Linked DNA regions of Homo sapiens: region 2 is linked to region 1. A link means that fine-mapping ties the variant in region 1 to the expression of a gene that starts in the linked region. Tissue or cell type: prefrontal cortex. Region 1 holds a variant in brackets; the other region holds the start of a gene. All regions are shown on one strand. Distances are between the middles of the regions.

Evidence for each region. PIP is the estimated chance that this variant, and not a neighbour inherited with it, causes the effect.
Region 2: it holds the start of PXMP2, and the variant in region 1 is fine-mapped to the expression of PXMP2 in prefrontal cortex (GTEx, PIP 0.96). The same link has a PIP of 0.9 or more in skeletal muscle.

Annotation. Positions count from the first base shown.
Region 1 is chr12:132,631,573-132,639,744 of GRCh38, forward strand. POLE (DNA polymerase epsilon, catalytic subunit) reads right to left here. Exons shown (of 49, transcript NM_006231.4): 40 at 7,553-7,726; 41 at 6,442-6,567; 42 at 4,320-4,452; 43 at 2,614-2,806; 44 at 1,092-1,223; 45 at 743-936. Among named protein-coding and RNA genes, the nearest start is that of P2RX2, 17 kb to the left of the region's middle. The variant C/G (reference allele first, on the strand shown) is at 4,803.
Region 2 is chr12:132,682,756-132,690,936 of GRCh38, forward strand. It overlaps PXMP2 (peroxisomal membrane protein 2), which reads left to right and starts at 4,832. Exons shown (of 5, transcript NM_018663.3): 1 at 4,832-5,037; 2 at 7,508-7,621. The coding sequence starts at 4,916. POLE (DNA polymerase epsilon, catalytic subunit) reads right to left here and starts at 4,587. Exons shown (of 49, transcript NM_006231.4): 1 at 4,499-4,587. The coding sequence starts at 4,560. RefSeq lists a silencer at 4,038-5,347.

The sequences.
Region 1 (8,172 bases):
AAGGCTGAGTGAGGAAATGGACAGTGAAGCACTCTGCTCTGTAAGGGCTGACACCCGCGGTCGTTATCTGGTAATATTATCCCTCCTTGGACTCAGCCTGCCTTTCCCAGAAAGGCCTCAGCATCCGAGCAAGCTCTCATCTCATCAGCTCTGGGTCCTGGTCCAGCCTACTGGTCTCCGGTGACCCATCCTCCCAGCCGGTGGCACTGGGTGTTCGGCTGTGCCTTCACCAACACACCAAGCTCACCCCCCAGGGCCTTTGCGTCTTCCCTCCTCCTGCACCTGGTCCCAGCGCCCCTCACAGGCTCCATCCCCACAGCACCTGCGCCTCTGAACGGCCCTCTCCCTTCTCGGGTCGGCTGGCAGCAGACAGGCCCCACAAGGCAGGACCTTTCCTGTCTTGCTCACACCTGAGCACAGATGCCGCAACTGTGGCTGCATGTGACAGGGACATGATAAATGTTGGTGGAATGAACAAGTAACTTACACCTGCTCCTCACCTTGCACACGCTGGCACCCTGACCCTACACATGTAGGTACCTCCCCCTTGCACAGCTGAAAGCCTCATCCTGCATTCATTAACATCCTTACCATGCACAGGTATGTCGGTGTCCTTATCTTGCACACATACGCTAGCACGTTCATGGTGCACGCATTACAGCCTCACCTTGCACACAGTAACATTCTCGCCTTACACATGTACGTTAGTGTCCTCTCCTCACACGCACGCTGGCACTCTCACCTTGCACACGTATTTGATGAACTCCAGGGCAGGGTTATTGAGCAGCAAGTGGGAACCGGGGAGGACAGGAAACATCTCTGAGAGCTCAGTGGAGTTCCGAGAGCCTGTGACTTTCTTCTGAATCTTCTGAGTGATGGTGAAGAAGCTCTGAGTGAGCTCATTTGCGACATAATCCTGAGAGAAGGTGATCATTCCTGGAAGTATAAGGATGCTGAGGGAGGGGTCTGGGACCTGTCTGGCACTGGGGACCTCCCACCTGGGGGACTGGCACCGGGGACCACCCATGGCACACAGAGGAGTTAGGTCACTGGCACATGGCAGTGGCCTCAAAAGACAAAAGACTGCTCACCGGGAAGGGCTCCGACCGCCCCCTCGGCCTCCTGGGAGAGCTGGCTGGCCCCCCTCCTCCTCACGGGGGTGCTCCCTGGAGCACTGCGCCTCAGCCCGTCCTTCATGCAGTGGTACACGGCCACGATGTACGCTGTGGAGAGGCACACACACCACAGGCCCTGAGTCGGGCTGCTGCAAACACCCTAGAATCTGAGGGGACCCATGGCTGGTCAGATTGCCTCACAGATGAGGCTAAAATGTCATTGTTAATAATTTTATCTGCAGCCTTTAGATGAGCTAAAAGTAAATTAGAGAAGTGAGAAGTGGAAATGAGAAGGAACACTCGCTGACACCTGAGTTCATTGTCAGAGAGAAAACTGTATAAATGGGGCCATGTACACTAAGCCTCTCACTGGGTAGCGCGTGAAAGACAGCTCCCAACACAAGCAAAGGCAGGGCCCCTGGCATCAGCAAGCTTCTCCAAAAACTACTCCGGGCCTGTCACCTGGCACTTACCCTTTTTTTTTTTTTTTTTTGAGACACAGTTTCATTCTTGTTGCCCAGACTGTAGTGCAATGGCGCAATCTCAGCTCACTGCAACCTCCGCCTCCTGGGTTCAAGTGATTCTCCTGCCTCAGCTTCCTGAGTAGCTGGTATTAAAGGTGTGCGCACCACACCTGGCTACTTTTTGTATTTTTAGTAGAGATGGGGTTTCACCATGTTGGCCAGGCTGGTCTCAAACTCTTGACCTCACGTGATCCACCCGCCTCAGCCCCCTAAAGTGCTGGGATTACAGGCATGAGCCACTGCGCCCGGCCAACCCGGAACTTTTCAAAAGAGACATAGAAAGTTGCAAGAGAGAACTGAGAAAGTTAAAGACTCAAGGACAAGTAGACAAAAATATAAAATGATCATCAACGAAGGCCTCTGTGACCGCATCCACCTGTGTGTGCACATCACAACCTGCTGTTTTTACTTAGGGCATTCTTTAACTTAGGGCTGTCAACTACAAACAGTGCTTCCTCGATACACTTCATCTGCACACTAACCTGCATAGCTTGATTTGCAAACTCTAAGCCTGCAGACCCAAACCAAGGCATAGGAACTCCCCCACCAGAAAGTTAGGCCTCACAGACCAGCCAGGGGGCAGCTGACCTGACCCAGGGCTTTATCTTCAGCTACTGAACGTGCACACACACAAATGTTCCCTGGGAATGTATGTGACTGAGTTACCGAATCAGATGGCGGGAGCAGAGCTAGGAAACTCCTCAATGACACGGCCAGGGGCAGCCGCTCCCCATGGAGTTTCCTGAGAGCAAAGGCTGGAGGGAAGACAGTCACCCCTCTCCGGGCCCTCCAGTGGAACATGCCTGGAGCCTGGAGAGGAGGCCCCTCGGCTCACAAAGTCCCAACTGCTGGGCAGGCTCCGCCCGATCTGATTTTCCCTGTCTCCCTTCTTGCGATACCATGGCACAGGAGCCACATCTACTAACCATGAGTCCCTTCAGTGGGGGCTGCGCAGCCCTGGGCTCTGGGCTTACCTGAAACAATCATGAGGAAGTAGTTCTGGCAGGAGGCTGCCTGTGGCAAAAACTGCAAAATGTTCCAGTTGTTTTCCAGTAAATCCTCCACGTTGGATTCCTCCGCCTCTTCCTCCTCCTCCCCATCTCTTTCCTCCTCATCGTCCTCATTTTCCTGCTCATCCTCTGCTCCCCCTGCTTTCTGGGAGTCTTGCTGTAACACATGAGACAACGCGGCTGTGTTTGCACCATCGCGGCCTGGTAGAGGGGTAGGATGCCACAGCGAAGGCTCCTCCAACCTGGGTCCATCTGCCCCGTTTGACCAGAGGCCTTCCTCGCAGTCAAGGCATCCCCTGGAGCCTGCGTGAATCCCCCAGGGTGGCTCCCAGTACAAAGTGCTTTGTGGGAAGCGCCTGGCACACAGAAGTGCTCGTGACCTGGGACTGTGAGCTTCACTCTGCTCTTCCAGAGTTCACTTTAATTGTTGAACTCCCACCCCCCAAGGACGAAAGAACCAGCCAGAGCTTCCCGGTGACTGTTCTCTCCTCTGAGTCCATGAATCTCCTGGGACGGCACGACCCCATCACAGACCCAGCCTCCCGCGCAGCCTGTGTTCGTGCCACGGCACCATCCACGTCTGTGTAGACACCGACACCCACTGCCACCTGCCCTGACCACACGCTGATCCCCTCCTCAGAGCGGTCTACACTGCCTGAGTTTCTACCCTCCCACTTTGTTCTGAATCCCTTCAATCAGGGTTTATCCCCCAACTCCAACCAGAATCGCTCCCATCCAGGTGTCCTGGGCAGTCTTGGCTTCATCCTGCCAGCTCCCAGAAGCGTCTGCGTCCTTACAAAGGGCTTTCCCTCTGACATCTGAGCCCCTGGCTCTGGTACCCACAGCTTCCTCTCAGTCCACTATGAGGGCCCCTGTGGAGGACACAGGCCTCCTCTCAACCCACCCAGCCACTCTCTGGCCACTCCTGCACCAGCTGACCACCCACGTCTCAACCTTGCAAACACCATGAGCCCCAGCCAGACGTGACCCCTTCCCCAGACTGCTCCCGACAGCCACCTCCACTCACCCACAGCCTGGCCCGCACCTGGGCATTTACACACATCCGATCCGCTGGCCCCTTGGCTCCACTTCAAAGCCCACCCAGGCCCTTCTCACCAACCTCGCTGCCCAGCATCTCCCTGACACAGGCACTAACCGGCTTTACCTGCCTGTGCCCTCCAATGGTGGGTTATCCACATGGGGCCAAGAAAGCTCCAACATCACCCACACAGAAGCTCCCATCCCCACGAAAGCCGAGGCCCTGCCCTGCCATGCCCAAGTTGCCTGGCTCTGTCAGCTCTCTGCCTGCATCTGCAACCACTGCTCCACTGACTTGTGCTTTGCCTCCCTGGTGTCCATCCGCTGGAGGCGCCTTATGCTCGCACAACTATGGTGCACTTCATCAGCTCTCGGATTCCCTGTCACCACCTCATGGGCCTCCACCTCCCTGTTGCCCACGGCAAGCCTTGCCATCACCAGGGCTGACGCCACACTCCACACTGACGTGCTTGTCTGCGCATGGTCCCTCCCCGTGTTCATGAGGGCAGGATGCGGGTGCAGTGTCTGCTGCTCACGGCCAGGCCCGCCGGGGCCCTGAGCACTCAGCACTTGCTGCAGGAATGAACGCGACCCCCAAAGCTGGCTCGGGTGCCACACTGCAGCTCGCTTACCAGTCCACAGTGAATACGAGATGAAACTTTTCCTTTGATTCCGCCATAGTTAGATGGATCCATCCAGAGAAGAAATTCCCAGCATCGAGAGAAAGAAATTGTCAGAGAATGGAAGGTCTCCTTTGAATGGATGCTGCAGAGGAAGCATTGAAGACGCTGCTTCAGTGAAATCGACCTTGTTCTCAACTTTCCTTTATTTCCCCTTGTATCTATCTGTACCCTCCACTTACTTAACACTGAATTTGAAAGTTCATTCAGACCACATCATCCCTCAGGCTTCCTGGGGAAATGTGGTAAACGTAAAACTAAGGAGGCCCACCAGGCCCCTGGGAGCTGGCGCCACAAAGAGAGCTGGGTGCCTCCTCGTGCTGGGGATGGCCCACAGGGTGTTCTGCCTCTGCTCTGCGGCCTTAGGTGACCTGCACCTGCTGGTAACCAACCACAGTGCTTCCCACTGCCAAGCTCTTTTAAGCTATCGTCATC[C/G]TTGTCACTCCTCGGTTAAGCCTCCCTAGCGCTGACCCAATCCTCTGCACATTAGATCCATTTAAGGAAAAAAAAAAAAAAAAAAAAAAAAAAAGAACAGGCCAGGCACGGTGGCTCACGCCTGTAATCCTAGCACTTTGGGAGGCTGAGGCAGGAGGATCGCCTGAGTTCAGGAGTTCAAGACCACCCCAGGCAACGTGGCAAAACCCTGTCTCTACAAAAAATACAAAAATTGGCTGGGCATGCTGGCATGCACCTCTAGTCCCATCTACTCAGTGGGCTGAGGTGGGCAGATAGCTTGAGCCCAGAGTTTGAGGCCGCAGTGAGCCATGACTGCACCACTGCACTCCAGCCTGGGTGACAGAGCAAGACCCCATCTCCTAAAAAACAAACAAAACCCCAAAAAATGGAAGAATAAACAAAGAAAGAGAGGAAGGAAGGAGGAACATCCTAAATCACAGTTTCAAAATGCAGCTGAGTAGCCCACATCGCAGCTCCTGCAGGAGAACTTTATGTTCTCCCTAACTCTGCTCTTCGCGCTAAGGAAGAATAGCAGCCTGTTTCTCGACATGAGCAACCCCGGCCTCCTCAGGTACAGGGCACCCCTGGAGCTGCCCATGGCCAACGTGGGGAGAGGCACATCCTTCCCATTATCTCAGCCATGCTCCGAAATACAATTCTAGCCCAAGCCAGCTTTCCCAGGCACACAGCGTGACCACTGACCATCAAGGCTCATCTTGGATAGACATAAGGGGCCACAGTGGGTCTGCAGGAGGACAACAGTGCTTTTGTGTTTCAAATTAATCCAGTGCATATGGTTTGATTAGGAATGAAAGTCTTATAAGCTCTACCTTCCTACTTCTCAGTGATAAGGCCTATTATCAATTTAGTGTCAGCCTTTTCTGCAGCGCCCCCAGATGCTACCCCTGTAACCATGCAAAGATCAGACCCATGCAGACTCTCTGTGCCTCCACAAGCAACTCCCCTCTGTGCTCAGAAAGGGCTGCATTCATCCCCAGGGTGAGCGCACCTAGGAGGGAGCTTCCTACTATCAGTTGAACAAAAGTTGCTGGTGGAGATTTTTCTGTTGCTTTGTCTTCTATTTAGATTTAAATAGTGCTGAGTGTGTGAGAAGCACAGCAAGGCCTAGGAGGGAACCTCAGGAACATGGCCTGGAAGGCAGGAAGTCAAAACCACACCAGGCTCTGACAGCTGAGAGCTGTGCACACCTGAGCACCCGGGAACCACACCACTCCACTCGCCAACACTGACGTCTATGAAAAGGCTTACAACGTCAACACTTACGGGGTGCATATATTCAGGGCACCTTGAATCTGTGCCCTGAATATCCATGGGGAAAAAAAGCAAACAAACAAAAATCACTGTGGAACCTTCTTAGCAAAGGCAGGCCACTTCCTGAACTTGCCCAACTCAAGCTGCACAGCTGAGTGGCCTCCGATCTGCTACCGCGCACAGGTGGCGGTAACCCCCTTTTCACGCTGCTCAGATTCACCATGGTGAGTCCTGCACTTCTAACGACCTCCCAGCCCACCCAGGAGGAGAGCTGGCACCTCAGGGGGTCATTTTAGCATCCCTCTCAAAGCCACAGTGCTGCGTCACCAGGACCAGCCAGCCGCACCTGCTGGTGATGTACTCCACGTAAGCGATGGCATCTTCCACACGGCGCTTCTTTGTACAGAGGATGATGCGGTTGAAGTTGGCGTAGATGACTGATGACCCCAGGCGCTTGAACTCAGCGATGAGCCTGTGGAGCAAGTTGAGAGTCCGTGGTGGAGACGCCACAGTCATGGAGAGCCAGAGGGCACCCAGAAAATCCAAGAGGGAAAAGAGCTGAGGGTCCTGAAGCAGAAAAGCCTCCGAGATACACTAGAACCCAGAAGCTAATGAAGAGCAAAGATTTCTGCATGGCAAAAATCCACCACAAACAAAGGCAAAAGATAACCAAAAACAGGAAAAAATTAGCAAATTCTTATCACAGAAAAATGGCAACTTTTTGTATGGAGACAACTCATTCGATATTTAATAAGAGAAGAACCACCAAAACTACAGAAAAATAGACAAAGGACTAGAAGAGAAAATTCGACTTCATTCATTGTAAGAATCCTAAGTTAAGACTGCACCAAGAAGCACTTTTATCCCAGCAGTTGGGTAATAATCCCCGGCCATGTTGGTGAGGCGCGGCCAGGGAAGAAGTGTCCACAAGGGGCCTCTGTGGGGCCGCTCTGGTGAAGTCCATCAAATCAGGATTCATCCCGAGTTACAACACCTCTGAGGCCTGCAAGAGGGCTACGCCCCAGCAATTACCCCACGGATCTATCTGCATGAGCTCATGCATGAAGCCTCTCACTGATTTGCTATTTGTAACAACGGCACAAGGCTGGAGAGAGGCTAAATGTTCTTTCATATGGCATGTCCTCACACAGATCTCCTGACACAGGCATATTTTCACTAAAACAACAAGGCACACAGCAATACAATGTGTAGCATGACTTTGTGCAGGAAAGGGGCAGGAGAGGAGGTGCCACCTAGTGTTCTCTGCAGGATGTGCAGGCGACGCTGCAGCAGCAGCTGCGTGTTTCTCTGGGATCCTTTGGATTGTTATGCTCCACAAACTCAGAAATACACTACTTATCCCAGAGGCACTGGCTGGCCATGTCTCTGGTTCTGGGGAGTAAGGGACCAGCCCAGCTGAGGACGCGGTGGACAGCCCAGGGAGGAGGAGCACTCACTGCAGGAAGAGCTTCTTCATCATGTTGTGGAGTGTGCGGTGCAGGGCAGGGTCATGAAGCAGAGAGGATGGCGACCGAAGCCAGCGGTAGAAGTGCATCACCTGGTTGTCTGCATAGATGTTGTGGTACTGGGTGATCTCCTTCACCCAGCCCACGACCATGCTCTTCAGGATCCTGAAAGAGAAGGTGCACGACACCCTCGTACCCTCAGCCTCCCACGCTGCTGCCACGCGGGACGCTCCAACTGAAATGGGCACAGGTTTTCCCTACACGGCTGGGTCCAAATCCGTCACTGTCGCCTCCCCTTCTCACTGTCCCCACCTTAAGTCACGGTCCAAATTTCATCCCTTCACCCTCATGCCTCATCTGTTTCTTCCCATTTCATTCCTTAAACTTGTTCAGGCTTCACCGCATCCCAAACTCTGTGTGTTCTAAAGCAGGACGGGAGGGCAGCACAGTACAAAGCAGCAAGTGTGTGACGGGCCGGGGACCCTGACAGGAAGGACACAGCAAAGCCACTGCCTAGACATCAGAACACCACACTAGGCCGGATGCAGAGGCTCACGCCTGTAATCCCACCACTTTGGGAGGCCGAGGCAGGTGGATCACCTGAGGTCAAG
Region 2 (8,181 bases), 51 kb after region 1:
ATCCTGGCTAACATGGTGAAACCCCGTCTCTACTAAAAATACGAAAAATTAGCCGGGCGTGGTGGCGGGCGCCTGTAGTCCCAGCTACTCGGGAGGCTGAGGCAGGAGAATGGCGTGAATCCAGGAGGCAGAGCTTGCAGTGAGCTGGGATCATGCCACTGCACTCCAGCCTGGGCGACAGAGCGAGACTCCGTCTAAAAAAAAAATAAAATAAAAAAAGAACAAGATAAAAAAAGAAAGGAAGACCCTTCCTTTGTCTGAAGGTATTCCTTGGATCACCTTCAACTCAAGAGCAGAATGACCATATTCCAAGACTAGGATCCTTACTTCTCATGAAAGATTATAACCACTTGTGGTAGGCAGGCAGGATGACACCCCCCATGAAAGACCCACATCCTAATCCCCCAAACCTGTGAATGTTATCTTACAAGACAAAAGGGTCTTTGCAGATCTGACTAAATTAAGGGCCTTGAGATTCTGCTTAGCTGGGTGGGCGCAGTGTAATCACAAGAATCCTTGTAGAGTGAGGCAGGAGAGCTAGAGTCAGGAAGGAGAAAGGGATGGGAGAGAGAGGGTAGGGGGGAGAGGAGATGCAACCCTTGGTTCTGAAGATGAAGAAGCAGCAAGGAAACAGATTCTCCCCCGGGAACCATCACAATAAATATAACCAACCAGACACTTTCATATTACGACTTCTGACTTCTAAAACCGTAAGAGAATAAATTTATATAGTCACTAAGTGATCATGTGTTACTGCAGCAATAGGAAACTGATACACCACCATACTGTATAATAAAGGTTTAATCTTTTAAATAGTTGAATGCACCCGTAATCAAAAACACAGAAAAACTATATTCCAAATCTTGCTAGAGAACAGCCTCAGTTCTGAGTCCCAGATCTTTATCAAAATCAAGAGTGAATGAAGTGCTATTTACGAGGCATCACCTCTTAACAGGGGCGCACGGCCCTCTATGCCAGTCCTCCAAATATCCTTGCCTCAAGTAAGTTGGATTAAGTAGACTAGAAAACTGCTCACTGGGACCATATTTCCTCCCAAAACTGCTTTCTCTGAGCTGTGTATCTCACTTTTAATCCAGGGACAGTAAGAAATCTGAAAAATGGGGATAAGTGTCACACAGGGAGCTACCATCGACTGGTTACTATATCACACCGTCCCAGTACTCCACACAGGCTCTCATTCACAGAGAGCTACCATTGACTGGTTACTATATCACACCGTCCCAGTACTCCACACAGGCTCTCATTCACAGAGAGCTACCATTGACTGGTTACTGTATCACACCGTCCCAGTACTCCACACAGGCTCTCATTCACAGAGAGCTACCACTGACTGGTTACTGTATCACACCGTCCCAGTACTCCACACAGGCTCTCATTCACAGAGAGCTACCATTGACTGGTTACTGTATCACACCGTCCCAGTACTCCACACAGGCTCTCATTCACAGAGAGCTACCATTGACTGGTTACTGTATCACACCGTCCCAGTACTCCACACAGGCTCTCATTCACAGAGCTACCATTGACTGGTTACTATATCACACCGTCCCAGTACTCCACACAGGCTCTCATTCACAGAGAGCTACCATTGACTGGTTACTGTATCACACCGTCCCAGTACTCCACACAGGCTCTCATTCACAGAGCTACCATTGACTGGTTACTATATCACACCGTCCCAGTACTCCACACAGGCTCTCATTCACAGAGCTACCATTGACTGGTTACTATATCACACCGTCCCAGTACTCCACACAGGCTCTCATTCACAGAGAGCTACCATTGACTGGTTACTGTATCACACCGTCCCAGTACTCCACACAGGCTCTCATTCACAGAGAGCTACCATTGACTGGTTACTGTATCACACCGTCCCAGTACTCCACACAGGCTCTCATTCACAGAGAGCTACCATTGACTGGTTACTGTATCACACCGTCCCAGTACTCCACACAGGCTCTCATTCACAGAGAGCTACCATTGACTGGTTACTGTATCACACCGTCCCAGTACTCCACACAGGCTCTCATTCACAGAGCTACCATTGACTGGTTACTATATCACACCGTCCCAGTACTCCACACAGGCTCTCATTCACAGAGAGCTACCATTGACTGGTTACTATATCACACCGTCCCAGTACTCCACACAGGCTCTCATTCACAGAGAGCTACCATTGACTGGTTACTGTATCACACCGTCCCAGTACTCCACACAGGCTCTCATTCACAGAGAGCTACCATTGACTGGTTACTGTATCACACAATCCCAGTACTCCACAGGCTCTCATTCACAGAGCTACCATTGACTGGTTACTATATCACACCGTCCCAGTACTCCACACAGGCTCTCATTCACAGAGAGCTACCATTGACTGGTTACTATATCACACCGTCCCAGTACTCCACACAGGCTTTCATTCACAGAGCTACCATTGACTGGTTACTGTATCACACCGTCCCAGTACTACACACAGGCTCTCATTCACAGAGAGCTACCATTGACTGGTTACTGTATCACACTGTCCCAGTACTCCACACAGGCTCTCATTCACAGAGAGCTACCATTGACTGGTTACTGTATCACACCGTCCCAGTACTCCACATATGCTCTCATTCAGTTTTCATGACAACCCCTACGAGGGAGGCCACTGGTGTCCCCATTTCACACAAGAAGAAACGCAGGCAAACAGCACCCACTGCCTCCTGGGGCACACTCACCTCCCAGGACTGTTTTAAGGATGAGATGAGGTAACCCACATAAAGCATGTAAGGTAAAAGCCATCACTTGTACTTATCCCAGCAGCAGCCTTCCCCCTGCCTGGAGGCCATCACTGAGCTTGGGGCAGGGCAGTGGAGTGGAGCACGTGAGTGCAGTCCTGTGTCCTGAAGCAGGGCAGTCAGTAACCGTCTCTAAGCTCCAAGTTCCAACACACCATGTAGACCCTAAGGGTACCTGCCTCTCTAGGGCTTGCCTGATATGGACAGACAGCGATGAGCACAACAGCAGTTAGGGATCCTTACCACTTGGTTTCTCCTCTGGGAAGAATTTTGTTCAGCTAAGTGTCTGTAAAAAGCTTCACGTTCTCACACGTTTTTTCTATTTTTTTTTTTTTGAGACAGAGTTTCATTCTTTGTTGCCCAGCCTGGAGTGCAATGGCGCGATCTCGGTTCACCGCAACCTCCGCCTGCCGCGTTCAAGTGATTCTCCTGCCTCAGCCTCCTGCGTAGCTGGGATTACAGGCATGCGCCACCACGCCCCGCTAATTTTGTATTTTTTTAGTGGAGACGGGATTTCTCCATGTTGGTCAGGCTGGTCTCGAACTCCTGACCTCAGGTGATCCTCCTGCCTCGGCCTCCCAAAGTGCTGGGATTACAGGTGTGAGCCACCGCGCCGGGCCTCATCCGTTTTCTGCTTATGGCAGGCCAGTCCTCCGGTCATGTTTACCGTTTGCTCTGGCCACCAAGCAGCCGCGTCTTATCCTTGCTCTATTTTTTTTGAGACTGGGTCTGGCTCCGTCGCCCAGGCTGGAGTGCGGTGGCGCGATCCCGGCTCACAGCAGCCTTGACCTGCCGGGCTCAGGTGAACCTCCGGCTCGGATTCGGGAGTATTAATAGCTGGGACCTCGGGCGCGCACCACCAGCCTGTCTAATTTTTCTTGTTTTTACAAGAGAAGGGCCGGGCGCGGAGTCTCACGTCTGTAATCCCAGCACTTTGGAAGGCCGAGGCGGGCGGATCACCTGAGGTCAGGAGTTCGAGACCAGCCTGGCCAACATGGTGAAACCCGGTCTCTACTAAAAATACAAAAACTAGCCGGGCCTGGTGGCGGGCGCCTGTAATTCCAGCTACTCGGGAGGCTGAGGCAGCGGGATCGCTTGAACCCGGGAAGCAGAGGTTGCAGTGAGCCGAGATCGCGCCACTGCACTCCAGCCTGGGCGACAGAGCGGGACTCCCTGCCCAAAAAAATAAAACAGAGGAGACGAGGTCTCTCTCTGTAGCCCAGGCTGATCTAGAACAGGATCCTGGGCTCCAGCGATCCGCCCGCCTCGGCCTCCCCCAGCGCTAGGCCCCCAGGCAGGGTCCCCGGCCCCGCCCCTCCCCGCACCCTCCCCAGCCGCGCGTCCACCCCGCAGGGCCTGGCCCGGGTCCCGCCGCTCTCATCGCCCCCGCCGCGCGGCAGGTCCCAAACGCAGCTGCGCGGAAGGCGAGGCCCGAAAAACCTCAGAAAGAGCCGAGCAGGGAAAGGCCGCGCGGCCCGCCTCGTTTCCCCGCAAAGAAGCCGCGCCCGTAGCGCCTCCGCCCGCCCCGAGCCCCTCCGTCGGCGGTCGGGGCGCGCCGCCCTACCCCAGTCAGGCGCGGCGAGTGCGGGCGGCTGCGGGAACCGGGCCTCCCTCCCGCCTCGGCGGCGCCAGCCGAGGACGGCCCCATGGCACCCTCCGGAGGGCCGGCCCGAGAGCCTCAGGAGGGCGCCCCTCACCTGCTGGCCTCGCCATCCGCGCCTGGGTCCGCGCGCCGCCGCCCGCCGCTCCTCAGAGACATGGAGCCGTTGGCTACCACCTCTGCTTCAGGGGAGAAATTTGGCGCGCTCCCACCCAGACTCGCGAGAGCCGGAAATGCCGCCGTCCATCAAGAGGCGCGCTCCGCCCCTCCCCCGCCCCCCGAGGCGCTCCAATTGGCGCCGGCGCCCGGCGGGGGAGGTGGCCGGCAGGGACCGGGGAAAAGTGTGTGGTAGGCGCGCGCGGCGCACCGTGGGGTTGGGACCGGGCGGCGCTGCGGGCCGCGGTGGGGCCGGAAATGTCAGGCGGTCCCCACTCCGCTCTCGGCGCCTCGGGCTCCGCGCCCGGCCAGCCTGAGGTGGGGTCGGTGCCCCCGGCGGCACGGCGCTGGGGAGGCGATGGCGCCGGCCGCGTCCAGGCTGCGGGCCGAAGCCGGGCTCGGGGCGCTGCCGCGGCGGGCGCTCGCCCAGTACCTGCTCTTCCTGCGGCTCTACCCGGTGCTCACCAAGGCGGCCACCAGGTGAGCGGGGGCGCGGGAATCGGACGCCGCCCCGGCCCCAGGTCGGCCGCAGCGGCGCGGGGCCTGGACGGGAGCGCCGGGCCGGGACCAGGCTGGGGGCGCGCCCGGGTCAGAACCCCCGGAGCGGGCGCCCTCCGACCCGGCGCTGAACTTCCCGCGGCGACACCCGCGTCCGCAGTCAGCGATTGTGAGGCGCCTTGCGGATCCCGCCCTCCCAGCGCGTGGAGGGCCCGCCCAGACCCGGGGGTCGGCGCTGAGGTTCCACCCAAGGACCCAACAGGGGCCCCGCGCGCCCGGGGAAGCCACGGCAAGGGGAGCGGGTCCGCAGGCGCGGGTGAAGACAGGGCGAGGGGAGCGGGTCTGCGGGGCGCGGGTGAAGACAGGGCGAGGGGAGCGGGTCTGCGGGGCGCGGGTGAAGACAGGGCGAGGGGAGCGGGTCTTGGGGGCGCGGGTGAAGACAGGGCGAGGGGAGCGGGTCTGCGGGGCGCGGGTGAAGACAGGGCCAGGGGAGCGGGTCTGCGGGGCACGGGTGAAGACAGGGCCAGGGGAGCGGGTCCTCATGGAGCGTGTGGAGACAGGGCCAAGGGAGCGAGTCTGCGGGGCGCGGGTGAAGACAGCGCCAGGGGAGCGGGTCTTGGGGGCGCGGGTAAAGACAGGGCCAGGGGAGCGGGTCCTCATGGCGCGGGTGGAGACAGGGCCAAGGGAGCGGGTCTGCGGGGCGCGGGTGAAGACAGGGCCAAGGGAGCGGGTCTGCGGGGCGCGGGTGAAGACAGGGCGAGGGGAGCGGGTCTGCGGGGCACGGGTAAAGACAGGGCCAAGGGAGCGGGTCTGCGTGGTGCGGGTGAAGACAGGGCCAGGGGAGCGGGTCTGCGGGGCACGGGTGAAGACAGGGCGAGGGGAGCGGGTCTTGGGGGCGCGGGTGAAGACAGGGCCAGGGGAGCGGGTCTGCGGGGCACGGGTGAAGACAGGGCGAGGGGAGCGGGTCTTGGGGGCGCGGGTGAAGACAGGGCCAGGGGAGCGGGTCTGCGGGGCACGGGTGAAGACAGGGCGAGGGGAGCGGGTCTTGGGGGCGCGGGTGAAGACAGGGCCAGGGGAGCGGGTCTGCGGGGCACGGGTGAAGACAGGGCCAGGGGAGCGGGTCCTCATGGAGCGTGTGGAGACAGGGCCAAGGGAGCGAGTCTGCGGGGCGCGGGTGAAGACAGCGCCAGGGGAGCGGGTCTTGGGGGCGCGGGTAAAGACAGGGCCAGGGGAGCGGGTCCTCATGGCGCGGGTGGAGACAGGGCCAAGGGAGCGGGTCTGCGGGGCGCGGGTGAAGACAGGGCCAAGGGAGCGGGTCTGCGGGGCGCGGGTGAAGACAGGGCGAGGGGAGCGGGTCTGCGGGGCACGGGTAAAGACAGGGCCAAGGGAGCGGGTCTGCGTGGTGCGGGTGAAGACAGGGCCAGGGGAGCGGGTCCACATGGAGCGTGTGGAGACAGGGCCAAGGGAGCGAGTCTGCGGGGCGCGGGTCCGCACGGCGCGGGTGGAGACACGGCCAGGGAAGGTGTTTTGAGAAGGTGACATTGAACAGGCTGTGTAAAGAAGTGGAGCAGAGGCTCTCCTGGCACAGGGAACAGCAGGGCAAAGGTCTCTGTTAGGTTTTGAAGGGAAGGCCGGCGTTAAAGAAAGGCGGAGAGAGGTGCAGCTTGGACTCAGTCCCGAGGGAGGGAAGATCTGTGTGTGGAGAAAGTGAACCCTGAGCAAGAGGCAGGAGATGTGAAGGGAATCGCCAGGGATCTGATCGAGAAGGTGTCTAGGTCCGTGCTAGGAATTTTGGATTTTATAGTCCAGAGAGCTTCTCAGAAGGCAAATACAAACCAAGGCCTGGAGGGAGCCACTGGGCCTGTTCCACCTTTTTATGGAAATTTTTATTGTGATAATTGTAGATTCACAAACAGTTACAAGACTAACATGGAGAGATTCCTTGCACACCTTCCCAGTGTCCCCCATTGGTTACATTCTGTGAAACGTAGTGCAGTATCGACCAGGGCATTGCGTGGACACAGTCCACAGATCCTATTCGGATTTCTCCATTTTTCTTGTAGCTGTATCTGTTCTGTACAGTTTTATCACATCTGTACATTCTTGTGTTCACTACCACAGTCAAAATGCAGAACAGCGTCATGATAGGGCTGTCCTGTTGCCCGTTCATAACCACACAGCTTCCCAACTCCCAAACTGCCAAATTATAGTATAACATCACAGCCAGGATGTTGACATAGATACTGGAAAGCCACTTGTCCTTACCTGTGTGTTTAAGTCCACCGTCTCCACCTTTTGATACAAGAACTATACATTGCAGCCGCTTTAACAAGAATTCCTACCCCCCGCCCATCTGCTGCATGGCCTCAGAACGGCCCTGCTAATTCACCTATGGGAAAGGGACACCCTCCTGCTGGTCACTGCTGTTTTCTGATGACCTCCCTCTCCACAGTGGCATTTTGTCAGCACTTGGGAACTTCCTGGCCCAGATGATTGAGAAGAAGCGGAAAAAAGAAAACTCTAGAAGTCTGGATGTCGGTGGGCCTCTGAGATATGCCGTTTACGGGTGAGTGCCATACAAGGGGTGGGTTTACCTTGTAGCCGCTGAGTGCAACCAAGCTGGGCACCAAAACCGAGTAGTTGGAGTACTCTTATTTGGAAATATAATTTTTTAAAAACCATTGTAGTAATCATCATGGGAAAAAACTCGAATGGTTCATATAGTTTGTATGGCATATATACGCATACGTGGTTTTTTTTGTTTTTTCTTTTTTTTTGGAGACAGAGTCTCACTCTGTCACCCAGGCTTACTGCAACCTCTGCCTCTCTGGTTCAAGTGATTCTCCTGCCTCAGCCTCTCAAATAGCTGGGATTACAGGCACACACCGCCATGCCCAGCTAATTTTTGTTATTTTTAGTAGAGATGGGGTTTCACCATGTTGGCCAGGCTGGTCTTGAACTCCTGACCTCAAGTGATCCACCTTCCTTGGCCTCCCAAAGTGCTGGGATTACAGTGCTAGGAGTACAGGCTCACATTTGTGGTTTTATCATGTTTCTTTTTAATTGGATGGGTAGGGGTGACTGTCTTAATTGGGCTGAGAGGCAAACCTGAGGACAAGTAACTCA